Homo sapiens: one gene and its partner. The protein of the gene in region 2 binds, or shares a complex with, the protein of the main gene of each other region. Each region holds a gene or a part of one and is shown on either strand. Other genes may lie near its edges.

Region 1 (6,889 bases), on a different chromosome or scaffold from region 2:
TTTTTAAAAAACAGACATCAGTTTTACTACTTTGAATATTATATTTGATACCAAAAGAAGTATAAGTTTAGAAGTGGTATCACTGAAACCATTATAATTGAACTGCTTTTTTTTTTTGAGATGGCCCCTTCCTCTGTTGCCCAGGCTGGAGTGGAGTGCAGTGGCGTGATCTGGGCTCACTGCAACCTCCGCCTCCCAGGTTCAAACGATACTCCTGCCTCAGCCTCCCAAGTAGCTGGGACTACAGGTACCAGCCACCGTGTCTGGCTAATTTTTTTATTTTTAGTAGAGATGGGGTTTCACTGTGTTGGCCAGGCTGGTCGCGAACTCCTGACCTCAGGTGATCCGCCCGCCCCGGCCTCCCAAAGTACTGGGACTCTACAGGAGTGAGCCACTGCGCACGGCCTGCTTTGTGTTTTTCAGAAAGTAAACAAAAATAATCTGTACCAGGTATCCAGGTAACCGGCTTCAAGTACAATTTCTACCCAGTAGTCAGAAAGTTAAAAGTCACACTAGATAAGACATCTTTATTACTTAATCTTTAAAACAGTCACTTGCCTATTCAATTCTGAAACTGTTTGTTTTCTTTCCCTCCCCCGCACTCCCGCTCTGATACACAAACTTGTTGTAAAAATAATGCAGAAACATATACGTCAATCTAAGTCTCTGAAATATGGCCAACTCTACCTCGCCGTATATCCAACATTAAAAAGAAAAAAAAAGGCTGTTTAAGAATAGAACTCATTCCCGGTTTCCACCAAATTATTTCCCTAATTCTTAAATCCTCAAATAAGTTCTTAATCTCCAAAGTCTCGGTTGTGGGAAAAACATTAATTTGTGCAGTCCAACACTTACATACTTTCTTGACGGAAGGGCAATCCTGTCCCTTTAAACTCAATGAAGGCAGCGGCCAGGTCCTTCTGAGTCCCCGTATAATTGCCTAGAACTTAACATTTAGTATTCATAGTCCTTGGTTTACAGACGGGTCCGACAGTTAGAAACTATTACTTCCTCCTCTTTCCTCCTGGGCGCTGTCCTCCTTTTCTCTTGCCACCCAAGCCAGGCGGCCCAGAATTCATCTTGCCTCCCAAGCCCCCTTTCCTCTTCCCTCCCTGGCTGGGCGGGCCCCCTTTCCTCTTGCCCCCAGGCCCCTGCCGGCCTCCCTTTCTCTTGCCCTTCTGGCTCATTTTCCTCCTCTTGGCGGCCTCCTCCTGGTCCTCCTCCCTCATCTGCTTATTGGTGGCCCTAGTCACATCCAGCTGAGGCTTCTTGCTGTTCATGACACGAAGCAGCTCCAACTGGTTCTTTTTCTCGGCTGCAAAGTCCCCGAAAAGGGGTTGAAACTTCCTTTTCTTGCCGGAGCCCCGGGGCACCTTCTCCTTGGGGAGGCGCTCCTGAAAGCGCCCCACAGAGGCGGTGGAGACCTTGGCCACTTGCATGGCGCGGCCCAGCTCCTCCTTACTCTGGTGTCCGGTAGGGTGCAAGCCGGCCGCGCTGGGCAGCTGCATCTTGTGCGCGCGGGCCAGGTTACGCAGCCGGTTCAGCTCGTTCTTGGCCACCCTTTCCTTCTTGGCCTGAATCCGCTTGGCGAACTGGTCCTCCAAGGGGTCGGCATTGCCGGGCACCTCAATCAGCCATTCTTTGGTGTCGTCCCGGGCGCGCTGGTAGCCCCAGCGCCGCCGCCACTGGCCACTCACCTCGTCCCACACCAGGTTGGTCTTCTTCTTGGGACGGATGCCCTTGAGGCGCGCGAACTGCTGCCAGCGTGTAAGTGGCCGCGGTCGGGGCAGAGGCTTCTCTCGCGGCAGGCGTGTGGTGGGCTCCGGCAGCCGCGCCACTATCGCCTCTTCCACGCGCTCCGTGGGCAGCTGCCACAGCTGGTTGATGAGCAGTTGCGTGTTGTCCCGCGCCAGGGCCTGTAGCTCGGCCTCCGGCGTGGGTCCGGCGCACCGCAGCCCGGTCGGGGGGTTCCGGTCCGACGCCAGCAGGTTGCCCAGGTCAAACTGCAGCTCCAGCTCCTTGTGCACCGTGATGCGTTGCAACTTCTCTGCCTCGTCCTGCTCTGCCTTTGCGAGCAGCTCCTCCACGCTCTGGCCCTCCATGGCTCCGGCTCGGCTCACTCGCTTTGGGGCTGCAGCTGAAGTTACTTTTCCTACAGTGGCGGCCCAAACTCCGGCAGCATAACCACGTGCAGATGCCGGGATGCCCAATCCGGAAAAGAAAGGTTCGCTTCCGGAGCGTCCGGAAGCGGCTCGCAATCCGGGCGACCAGAGGAAAGGCCGGCAGAGGGCGGTATGGAGAGATGATGGGATTAGAAGCGGGACCTTTAGGCTGGCGCCAGATAGAGGCGGAGCTGGCCCGAGCAGGCCGCACTGCTAGTTCCAGAGCAGGATTGGGACTACGATTCCCAGGATGCAGGGGGCGGGAGGCGGTCTAGAGGGCGGTCCAGGGACAGCTCGGGGGGCCGCCTAGGGGGTGGTCCAGGGGGCGGTCCGGGGACAGTCTCGCAGGCGGTCTAGAGAGGGCGGTCCCGGGGGGCGATCTAGGGGGCGGTCTTGGGGGGGGCAGTTCAGGGAGTGGTCTTAGGATGGTGGTCCGGGGACAGTCTTGGGGCTCAATCCGGAGGGGCGGGCCGGAGGGTTTGTCCAGGGGCGCGGTCCGGGACCGGGGCGGGTACAAATTCCTGGGACTGCCTGTGGTGTGGGGTTCCAATCAAGTGCGTGTTACAATTTCAGTGTAAATCCGTTGTGAAGATGTTTAGACAATCACCCTTCTTAGGGCCAAATAGTTTCACTGGAGTCATAGTCGGCTTTCAGGGTTCCTAGTTGTGGCCCGAGAAAGATAACATCCCAAAGATACACATAGAGCTAATTGTAGAAGATTCGTTTTGTTTTGGGAGTCAGTGGCTCTGGCAATGAAGCCACCCCGAGTGGGCGCGGGTGTGCACCGACCCTAGTGAGCTAGCTGACTCGGAGATCCGGGATTCTGCAGTTACAGAACCTAGTCTAGTTCAATTAATCTAGTACAGTGCTGAAACTAAGCCACGCTCTGCAGTTACACTGCCTGGGTTCCAATCCTGACTGTGCCACTGTTGGTCCTTCAGCAATTTTACTTGTTGAGGCCGTTTTAAGGCCTGCGAGATAATGATAATAATACTTCCTAGGGTGGTTATAAGATAAATGAGTTAATATCGTCCAAGGGAGGGTTAGACGAGGGCCTGGAGCGTATGAGTACTCAGTACAAATTAGCCAAATACCGATTATTATTTCATTTTCATAGGCTCTGGGAGGTAAGTGCTACATGGTGTTAAGTATGAGTCAAACGGCCTACAATCAGGTATCAGGTCACCATTACTTGGAGAGGATGTTTGATCTAAGCCTTATTTATAAATTGACAAACATAAAACATTAGTTACTGCTACATGGTAAGAACTCAGTATGTGTTAGCTATTAGTATTAACTATGTTATTAATTATTGTATTAACTATATTATTTTCACAGATGAAACAAGGAGGGCTCAGAGAGGTGAAATGACTTATCTAAAGTTATGCAGTTAGGGAATATAAGAACAAGAGATATCTTAACTCTGGTTTTAAGTCTGTAGATCTATTCTCTGCAATGTCGTCCAAGCTCTTGATACTCATTAAAGTGTGGTCTGCATACCAGCAGCATAATATCCCCTGGGAGCTTGTTGGAAATGCAGAACGTCAGGCCTCACTCTAGATGTAATTTATCAGAACCTTTATTTTAATAAGATCTGTAGGTGACTAGGATGTACATTTGAGTATCAGAGGCACTGTTGATTGCGTGGTTTACAGGGTTTATCTTCCTTTCACTGGGGGCCAGGTTTATCCTAGAGGGGGTTATGCTGGAGAATTAACCAATGAAATTAACTTAATAGCAATTAGCAAATAGACTCAGTTTAGTTTCAGCATTGTGCTAGCCTTTCTCATCCAGAAGCATTTTAGAATTTGCTGTTTTTTTTTTCCCCTTGAACCTACTTTAACATTCAGCATCAAGGCTTTAACATCAGTCATCCCATGTAGCCAAGGCTAGGTCAAAGACCATATTAGCTAACTGCCTTGAGCCTTAAACCTTTGGGATTTGCCATAGGAGAGAGTTGAGTGTATTGATATGACTGCTATGGGCTTGGCTTGGTTTCTCATTCATTCATTCACTTGACAAACATTTAATTGAATGGCTACCATGTGGCAGACACTAGGTGCAAAGATAACTGAGACCTTATGGAATACTGGGGAAGAAAGGTAAAAAGAAATTGACTATATAATGTAACGTCATTGGACCTTTAATAGGAAGTACCAGTTATGTAGGAGTTAGCTTCTCTGTCAATCTTCTGAATTGGGAAAAAAAGAGCATAGGTTGACAAGTGTTAAATGGTATGATCTGGATCATACAGGTCAGCTCTTAATTGAACTCTGTTTTATGTTCAGTGTTTTTTTTTTTTTTTTTTTTTTAGACAGGGTCTCACTTTGTCACCCAGGCCGGAGTGCAGTGGCACGATCTTGGCTCACTGCAGCCTCAACCTCCTGGGTTCAAGTGGACCTCCTGCCTCAGCCCCCTAAGTAGCTGGGACTACAGGCACGTGCCACTACACCTGGCTCTTTGTGTGCATGTGTGTGTGTGTATTTTTTGTAGAGCCAGGTTTTGCCATGTAACCCAGGCTGGTCTCAAACTCCTGAGCTCAAGTGATCCACCTACCTTGGCCTTTCAAAGTGGTAGGATTACAGGCGTGAACGACCTTGCCCAGCCATATTCAGTGGTTTTTTATAGTCTAAACTGATTTTAATTTCCTTGAAGACTAGAGACTGATTTTTACTTCCACATAGTGCTGGGCACATATTAGGCATTCAACAAAATGATTGTTTAAAAGCATAAACACTATAGGGTTATCTAATTAAAGGTTATTACTATTGATTGTGTTAGATTCAAGGTGAGCAAAAACAGTAAGATTGGGATTTCGGGCTTAAAAAAAATCTTACTGAGGTAAGTGGGTAAGTTGTGGTCTCCAGGTTGCATTTGTATCATTCTTATTTTAGGCAAGACTATACAGTGCCCAGAGAAAGCAGGCTCTGGCCAGGCGTGGTGGCTCACACCTGTAATCTCAGAACACTGGGAGGCCAAGGCGGGAAGATCCCTTGAGACCAGGAGTTTGAGACCAGCGTGAATAAGATGGTGAGACCCCGTCTCTACAAAAAGTAAAAAAATTAGCTGGCTGTAGTGGCATGCGTTTGTAGTCCCAGCTACTCAGGAGGCTGAGGAAGGCTCCCTTGAGCCCAGGAGTTTGAAGTTACACTGAGCTGTGATGGTGCCACTGCACTGCAGCCTGGGCAACAGAGCATCTCCTGATTCTGAAATAAATAAATAAAAACCTCCTTCATTAAAAAAAGAAAAAGGAGGCCTACCAGAGATGTATAAATATATATGAATATATATTAATAGTACAGCAAATGGTGGTATATATTGTCTTTTTCTTTTGTTGGTTTCCCTTCTTCCTTATATCCCGTAAATACAGAGAGATCCTAAGTTTGGTCATCAGATCCCACTTTTTCTCTCTATGTGCTCCCTGTGACATGTCATCCACTTGCATGGTGCCAGCTACCACTTTTGTGCAGCTGGTTCTTACAGGTACATTTTTCTTTCTTTTTCGGAGCTCTAGGATTTAATCTTCAACTACCTACTGGGCTTTTCCGCCATATTCTAAACTCAATATGGCTAAAACGACATAACATATCATCATCTCCCAGATTTGCTTCTCCTTCATCCATCCATCCATCCATCCATCCATCCATCCATCCATCCATCCGTCCATCCCTCCCCTCTTTTTCTCCCAGGAAATGTTTATAGAAGGCCTTTGATGCCTGAGGCACTATGCCGACATTGAGTTGATGTTATCATCATTCTAGTCTAGAGCTTGGGCTTGAAACTATGACATCATCCTTGACTTTTCTCTTCCTATCTCCAAATCCAATCAATGTAAAAGTCTTGTTTGGCTTATCTCTATATTGTACCTTTTCCATTCCCACTGCCATGACCTTGCCACTATTTTCCTAGACTGGATCTCTTTCATCTGCTTCTCCATATTCTTTCTCCACTCTGTCCCTGGCTTCCAACTGGGTTTGGCCAGCAGGGGCAGTGACAGAAGATCAGAAGGCGTGAAGAGAGTGAGGGCACGCATGCAGATTGCCATCAAAAGTCCATCAAAAGGCCACAGCTCCCATCAGGTAGCCCTGTCCACGCAGCCATCTTCCTCCTGCTCCTCTAGCTGCTCCCTTGGTTGCTGCAGGCCTAGGAGTGATTATAGTTCTCTGCTAATGCAGCACTACCGTTATTGTCAGTTTCCTTAAACTGCCCACATCTCTGCAAGTATTCTTTGTTTATCTTTCTTAAATTACCCAGCTTGACCACTGCCTGTTTGCTGCCCTGACTGATATCCTGGGAACCATCCTAGGAGCATCCCAACATTTCCTGCTTCCATACTCTTTTCAGGGCAGTCCTGAAGCTTTACCTTTTGTGCATCTGGCCAAATCACTCTTCTCAAAGACCCTCCTTTCTCCTTAATGAAATAATGACTATTCTTGGTCTTGGATGTTTATGATCTGGCCCCAAGCAACTTTTTTTGTAGTCACATGTCATGATAGTCCTCCTTATGCTTGTTTTCCAAGTATTTCTTTCCCACTCTTATTTTCTATCTTAGCTCTCTCTAGAGCCTTAAGAACATTCCTCAAGAAAGGGAAAAGTGAGGTGAGGTGCAGGGCAGAAAAAGCAGCAATTATTGTAAAGTGAACCTGGAAGGGAGAGTTTTTCCCAAAGCAGGAATAAGAAGGTTAAAGCCATGAAAGCAATACCTTTCATGTTCCCTCAAAACATAA
Region 2 (7,098 bases):
TTTAAATAGTTATGAATTGTGCTTTTCTGAACAGAAAGCCCAAAACGAAAAGAGCCAAGAGATTCCTTGAGAAGAGAGAACCGAAACTCAATGAAAATATTAAAAATGCCATGCTGATTAAAGGGGGAAATGCAAATGCAACAGTGACAAAAGTACTTAAAGATGTGGTAAGTATATATACTTAATCTTTAAAAGGTATTGAAGTCATTTTAGAATTTTCAGCATGCTAGGATGGGCTGTCGGAGAAATACGTAGATAAGCTTGCCTTACCATAAGAACTACTAGTCTTAGAGAAGAGCTAAAGTTGGGGGTTTATTTACCTTGCGTGGCACCTTTTCTTAAAGCAACTAGTTCTCTTAGTAAATTTTATTATTGTTTTTTAGGAGCACAGGTGGGTCTGGTAGAGTGAAGGTCTCCCTTAGTAAATTTAAACTGTTTTCAATTACTAGAATTTGGCTTACTTACATTTTAGGAAAAAATCTAATTTGTAAAGAGAAGTAACTGCATATTGCTGTATATTTAGTCATTCAACAACACCGGTTACTGTGCCTCTGCTGGGAATTAATAGGTGAGACACAGTTCTTTCAGTGAGCTTAGAGAGATAGACATGTAAAAAGTTCTTACACTGTGCTGTGCTGGAGGCATGGACAGGGTAGGGTGGGAAACAGTTAAAATCACATAGGGGAGGCCAGGCACGGTGGTTCACGCCTGTAATCCCAGCACTTTGGGAGGCCGAGGCAGGAGGATCACGAAGTCAGAAGTTCGAGACCAGCCTGGCCAACATGGTGAAACCCCGTCTCTACTAAAAGTACAAAAATTAGCCGGGTGTGGTGGCGGGCGCCTGTAGTCCCAGTTGCTCGGGAGGCTGAGGCAGGAGAATCGCCTGAACCTGGGAGGTGGAGGTCACAGTCAGTCGAGATTGTGCCACTGCTCCAGCCTGAGTGACAGAGAGAGACTCCATTTCAAAAAAAAAAAAAAAAAATCACATAGGGGGACCCCCACACAGGGTAGGTTCCCCCAGAGATAACACTGCAGCTTCATTTTGAAGGAGAAGTTGGTGCAAGAAGTGGGAGAGAAAGAGAAGATCCTCTGAGGCTGAGAAAGAAGTTTGTGCAAAAGGGAGTATGAAGGAGCATTGATGCATTTGGAGAACTGTAAATAATTGGGCATGGCCAAAGGAGAGTGGGCTAGATGAGGCTAGAAGAGGAGGCATGGGTCACATAGTAACATGAAATTTGAATTCTAATCTGAAAGCTCCGTGTAATCATTGAAAGATATTAAGCAAGAGATACCATCAGTCCTTTTAATTGGCTTGATTAGAGAGGGTTGAGAGCAAATGTAGGAAACTAAGCCATTGCTGCCAGCTAGGTGAAGAGCATCTGGAGTCCAGTGGTGGCAATGAAAATGAGAAATGACCAGAAAGAATAGATGTTGAGGAAAGAAGAGTTGGGAACTAGTGAAAAGTATGACTTCCCAGGTGTTTGGCTTGAGTGCCTGATGGGCAATAATGCCAATTAGAAAATGTATCAAGCGGAGCAGGTTTGGAGGGAAAGGTGAAAGGTTCGGTTTGGGACATGTAATTTAAGTAATGAAAATAAAAGCTTTGTTTTTTCTACCTCTGTAGCCTAGTGTACAGCCCAGTGTCTGGACATAGTAGGTACTCAATATATATGTAATCTATGAAAGAAAGGCATAGTATGGGCCAGGCACAGTGGCTCACACCTGTAATCCCAGCACTTTGGGAGGCCGAGGTGGGCGGATCACGGGGTCAGGAGTTCGAGACCAGCCTGGCTAACACGGTGAAATCCTGTCTCTACTAAAAATGCAAAAATTAGCCAGCCATGGTGGTGGGCGCCTGTAATCCCAGCTACTAGGGAGGCTGAGGCCGGAAAATCTGCTTGGACCTGGGAGATGGAGGTTGGAGTGAGCTGAGACCACGCCATTGCACTTACTCCAGCCTGGGTAACAGAGCAAGACTCCAACTAAAAAAAAAAAAAAGACATAGTATGTGGAGATATCTAGTAGGTTATTTGACTAATTAGGCCTTGAGTACAGCCAATAGATCTTTGAATTAAATCAATTAAGTAATCGAATACATTTTTGTTGTTGTTATTGAGGTGGAGTCTCACGCTGTTGCCCAGGCTGAAGTGCAGTGGTGCCATCTTGGCTTACTGCAACCTCTGACTCCCGGGTTCAGGCGATTCTCCTGCCTCTAGCCTCCCAAGTAGCTGGGAGCCACCACACCCAGCTAATTTCTGTGTTCTTTTAGTAGAGACAGGGTTTCACCATGTTGGCCAGGCTGGTCACAAACTCCTGACCTGACATGATCTGTCCGCCTCGGCCTCCCAAAGTGCTGAGATTACAGGAGTGAGCCACCATGCCTGGCTTTGAATATATTTTAAACTTGACCAAACTCTATGCCTGATAAGCATAGTCAATTCAGATGTCTGAATGCCTTATATAGGCCCATCCCTTTTTTGAAATGTTTGTCTGAATTTCATTGTGCTAACGGGAAACTGCCCCTCTCCTTCTAGTATCCATCAGCACAATGACCCTGCATATTTAAGTAAGCTTTAAAAGCAGCACAATATTACAGATTACTACAATAATTAAAATTCATCATGATGACTCTGAGTCATCAAGAAGAGGTGGCAATGTTTATTACACGGAAACAGGGAAATAGTTGGCCAAGAATCATCAAAAGTTTTAGTACTTAAAAAGGTAGATTTTACTGTTGCATTTTCTTTGTTCACCAACTCTGATAGTTGATGAATGATTATTATACCTTATTTTTCATTGTTTCCCTCATTTACCCATTTCTCTAATGCAAGGTAGTACCTGATGACATCTTTGTTATTCTCTATGGTAGAGCAGTACTGGCCATACAAGTAATAAATGATTATAGGCCAGGTGTGGTGGCTCACACCTGTAATCCCAGCACTTTGGGAGGCTGAGGTGGGAGGATCACTTAAGCCTAGGATGACAGCCTGGACAACAAAGTGAGACCCCATCTCTATAAATTAAATTTAAAAAAATAATAAAATACAGCCTGGACAACATGGTGAAACCCCATCTCCACTCAAAATACAAAAATTAGCTGGGCGTGGTGCATGTGTCTGTACTTGGGAGGCTGAGATGGGAGGATCACCTGAGCCCTGGAGTTTCAGGCTGCAGTAAGCTTTAATCACGCCATTGCACTCCAGCCTGGGCAACAGAGTGAGACCCTGTCTCAAAAATAAATAAATAAAATAAAATGAATGATTATTTGTGGATAGGTAGAACTAGGAAAAAAATGAAGAACATTGAATAATAGGCATTTTTTAAAGAGCTGTGTTTAACCTCTGGCTAGTATTCTAATTGTCATCATTATTACTGTTTCTAAGTTTTCTGATCTCCACGCAACATTATTTCAATCTGTCAGCCTTTCGTGATAGAATTTATTTTTTCTGTTTTTGTCTACTACTTTTTTTTTTTTTTTTTCTGAGACAGGGTCTCACTCTATCACCAGAGCTGGAGTGCAGTGGTGCAATCACGGTTCACCACAGCCTCGAATTCCTGAGCTCGGGTGATCCTCCCGCCTTAGCCTCCCAAGTAGCTGGGACTGCAGGCATGCACCACTATGCCTGGCTAATTTTTGCAGTTTTTTGTAGAGACAGGGTTTTGCCATGTTGCCCAGGCTGGTCTCGAACTCCTGGGCTTGAGTGATCTGCCTTGTCCTCCCAAAGTGTTGGGATTACAGGCGTGAGCCACTGCACCTGGAATTGTTTCCCTAGAGAGAGACTGGACTAAGTCGAGTTTAAAGAAATGAAGGAAATTGTTTAAGTTGGATAGACTATTGACAGGGCATAGAAACTTTTAAATAGGAAAGTCTAGTCCAAGAATATTAAGCTTACATTTCAAGTTACTGTAAGTGATGAAAAGGGAGCCAGGCAGAAGCCCTCAGAATAAGATTGAGGCCCCAGAGCAATCTTGGAGAGTGACTGTTATGATGCTTTATTTTTATTTCTGCTTTTCAGAATGTGTTTTGTTTTGAAAGCTATAAATTTTGTTTTACAGTATGCACTGAAAAAACCATACGGTGTACTATATAAAAAGTAAGTCATGATTTCTTTTACTGTATTTTAAATGATTTTGTTTCATTATAAAAGTAACCACTTTATGGAAGATTTGGAAAACAAAAACTTTTTAAAAAGATATTAAAATTCCTTACAGTTATTAATATTTTAATTTCTTTCTTTTGGTCTGTTTTTTTCATTTGTATTGAATGTCCTTGCATAGTTGTAACCATAGCATATATATTTTATTTTGAAATACAGATTTACAGAAAAGTGCAAAAATAATGCAGAATTCCCATATACCCTTCACCTGGCTTCCCCTAATGTTACATCTTGCATAACCGTAATGCAATGATCAAAACTAATAAATTAACACCGATTCACTCATGTTAATCAAATGACAGACATATTTGATTAGCACCAGTTTTTCTTTTTTCCTTCTTTTGAGACGGAGTCCTGTTGTCGCCCGGCTGGAGTGCAGTGGCATGATCTCTGCTCACTACAACCTCTAACTCTGGGTTCAAGCAATTCTTCTGCCTTGGCCTCCCATGTAGCTAGGATTATAGGCACGTGCCACCACGCCTGGCTAATTTTTGTGTGGTTTTTTTTTTTTTTTTTGAGACGGAGTCTAGCTTTGTTGCCAGGCTGGAGTGCAGTGGCATGATCTCGCCTCGCTGCAACCTCTGACTCCCTGGTTCAAGTGATTCTCCTGCCTCAGCCTCCTGAGTTGGGATTACAGGCATGCACCTCCATGCCCAGCTCATTTTTGTATTTTTAATAGAGACAGGGTTTCACCATGTTGGCCAGGCTGGTCTTAAACTTCTGACTTTAGGTGATCTGCGCGCCTTGGCCTCCCGAAGTGATGGGATTACAGGCGTGAGCCACCCCGCCCGGCCCAGTTTCTTTTTTCTTTCTTTTCTTTTTTTTTTAAGACGGAGTTTCACTCTTGTTGCCCAGGCTGGAGTGCAGTGGCATGATCTAAGGTCACTGCAACACCTGCCTCCTGGGTTCAAGCAATTCTCTTGCCTCAACCTCCCGAGTAACTGGGATTACGGGCATGCGCCACCACGCCCGGCTAATTTTGTATTTTTAGTAGAGACGGGATTTCTCCATGTTGGTCAGGCTGGTCTCGAACTCCCGACCTCAGGTGACCTGCCCACCTCGGCCTCCCAAAGTGCTGGGATTACAGGCGTGAGCCACCGTGCCCGGCCCTAGTTTTCCTTTTAATACTCTTTTTCTCTTCAGGATCCCATGTTGCATTTAGTTTTCATGCCTCCTTAGTCTTCTCCAATTTGTGACAGTTCCTTAGTCTTTCATTGTCTTTGATGACCTTGACATTTTTGACAAGTACTTGTCAGTTATTTTGTAAATTATCCCTCAATTTGGGTTTAAATTTTCTCATGAATTGATTGAGGTTATGCATGTTTGTCAAGAACACTACAAAAATGTTGTGCTTTCCTCATATATTCTTCTGGATTATAATCCAGTGTTCTTAATTTTGTTGCTTAAATTGTTCTGTTTGGCAATTGGGAACCCCCCCCCCCCCCACCTTTTCTTTTGTTTGTTTTTTTAGTATGAGACGGAGTCTCACTCTTTCACCCAGCCTGGAGTGCAGTGGTGCGACCTCAGCTCACCACAACCTCTGGCTCCTGGGTTCAAGCGATTCTCCTGCCTCAGCCTCCTGAGTAGCTGGGATTACAGGTGCCCAGCTAATTTTTGTATTTTTAGTAGAGACAGGGTTTCACCATGTTGGCCAGGCTGGTCTCAGACTCCTGACCTCAGGTGATCCACCAGCTTCAGCCTCTCAAAGTGCTGGGATTACAGGCGTGAGCCACTGCTCCCAGCTGGGAACTCTTTTACGTTGGTTCCTATGACCTTTCAACATGCCTCCTGTTTTTGAGCACTTCCTTACTTTCTAACATCACAAAATTATCTGGGTTCATCTTGTCTTTTTCCTTACCACAGCCCTGGAATAAGCTACAGTCATCCCTCAGTATCTGTGGGCGATGGGTTCCAGAAACCTCCCCTTATTAAAATCTGGGTATGCTCGTCTCTTACATAAAATGGCCTAGTATTTGCATATAACCCACACACTTCCTCCTGTATCCTTTTTTTAAAAAATGCTTCCCATAAAAGTAAGTTGCATATACTTTAAATCATCTCTCGATTACTTATAATATCTAATATAATGTAAATGCTATGTAAATAGTTATAATGCTGTATTTTCTGGTTTATCCTGCTTTTTATTGTTCCTTTTTCTTTTTATTTCTTAACTTTTTTTTTAGAGACGGGGTCTCACTGTTACCCAGGCTGGAGTGCAGTGGCACGATCATATTTCACTGTTGTAAGCCACTGTGCTCGGCGCCCCCTGCTTTTTTTTTTTTTTTTAACACACTTTCTTTGTCTATTGAATACTGTCAATCCGTGGTTGGTCAAATCAATCCATGGATGCAGAAGGATGCAGAATCCATATGTACAGAGGACTACTTATTTTCCACGAGCCTATAAACTCCATGAAAGCAAGCATCTTGTTTAATGTAGTAGTATAGTATCACTAGCTCCTAGAATGGTAGCCTGGCATATAACAGGCACTGAATAAATATTTGAATGAATGAATATCCTTTCAATTGTTTTATCATCTGAATATAAAATTACCTTAATATATTAATTGTATATACTTATTTAGATTATTAAAATTGTCACTTTTTTGATATTCTTAGGAAAAATATTACAAGACCTTTTGAGGATCAGACATCACTGGTAAGTATAATAATCTTTATGATTTAAGAAAGCATATAAGTAGTAATTATTCAGACTAATTCATTTGTACTCCAAATTTGTGATTTTTTTAAACATTAGAAGTCATCCTGTGTGAGGGAATTTTGTGTAAAATGGAGAGGAAATACTTTAAAAAATATCTATAGAGCTTTCATTTCACTATGGCTGGGAAATGTGTTTTTCATTGCCTGCAAATATATTGATAAAATTTTTAAAACTTGGCCGGGCGCGGTGGCTCACGCCTGTAATCCTAGCACTTTGGGAG

Evidence for each region. Proteins that work in one complex are often made in the same cells at the same time.
Region 1: RPF2 (region 2) and RRS1 share a complex: the UniProt entries of both Homo sapiens proteins name them as parts of the hexameric 5S RNP precursor complex.

Annotation. Positions count from the first base shown.
Region 1 is NC_000008.11:66,424,345-66,431,233, reverse strand, and holds RRS1 (ribosome biogenesis regulatory protein homolog), read right to left. Parts: upstream 2,221-6,889; 5' UTR 2,103-2,220; coding exon 1,005-2,102; 3' UTR 501-1,004; downstream 1-500. UniProt on the Homo sapiens protein: Involved in ribosomal large subunit assembly. May regulate the localization of the 5S RNP/5S ribonucleoprotein particle to the nucleolus.
Region 2 is NC_000006.12:110,984,972-110,992,069, forward strand, and holds part of RPF2 (ribosome production factor 2 homolog), read left to right. Parts: intron 1-34; coding exon 35-167; intron 168-4,056; coding exon 4,057-4,094; intron 4,095-6,775; coding exon 6,776-6,815; intron 6,816-7,098. UniProt on the Homo sapiens protein: Involved in ribosomal large subunit assembly. May regulate the localization of the 5S RNP/5S ribonucleoprotein particle to the nucleolus.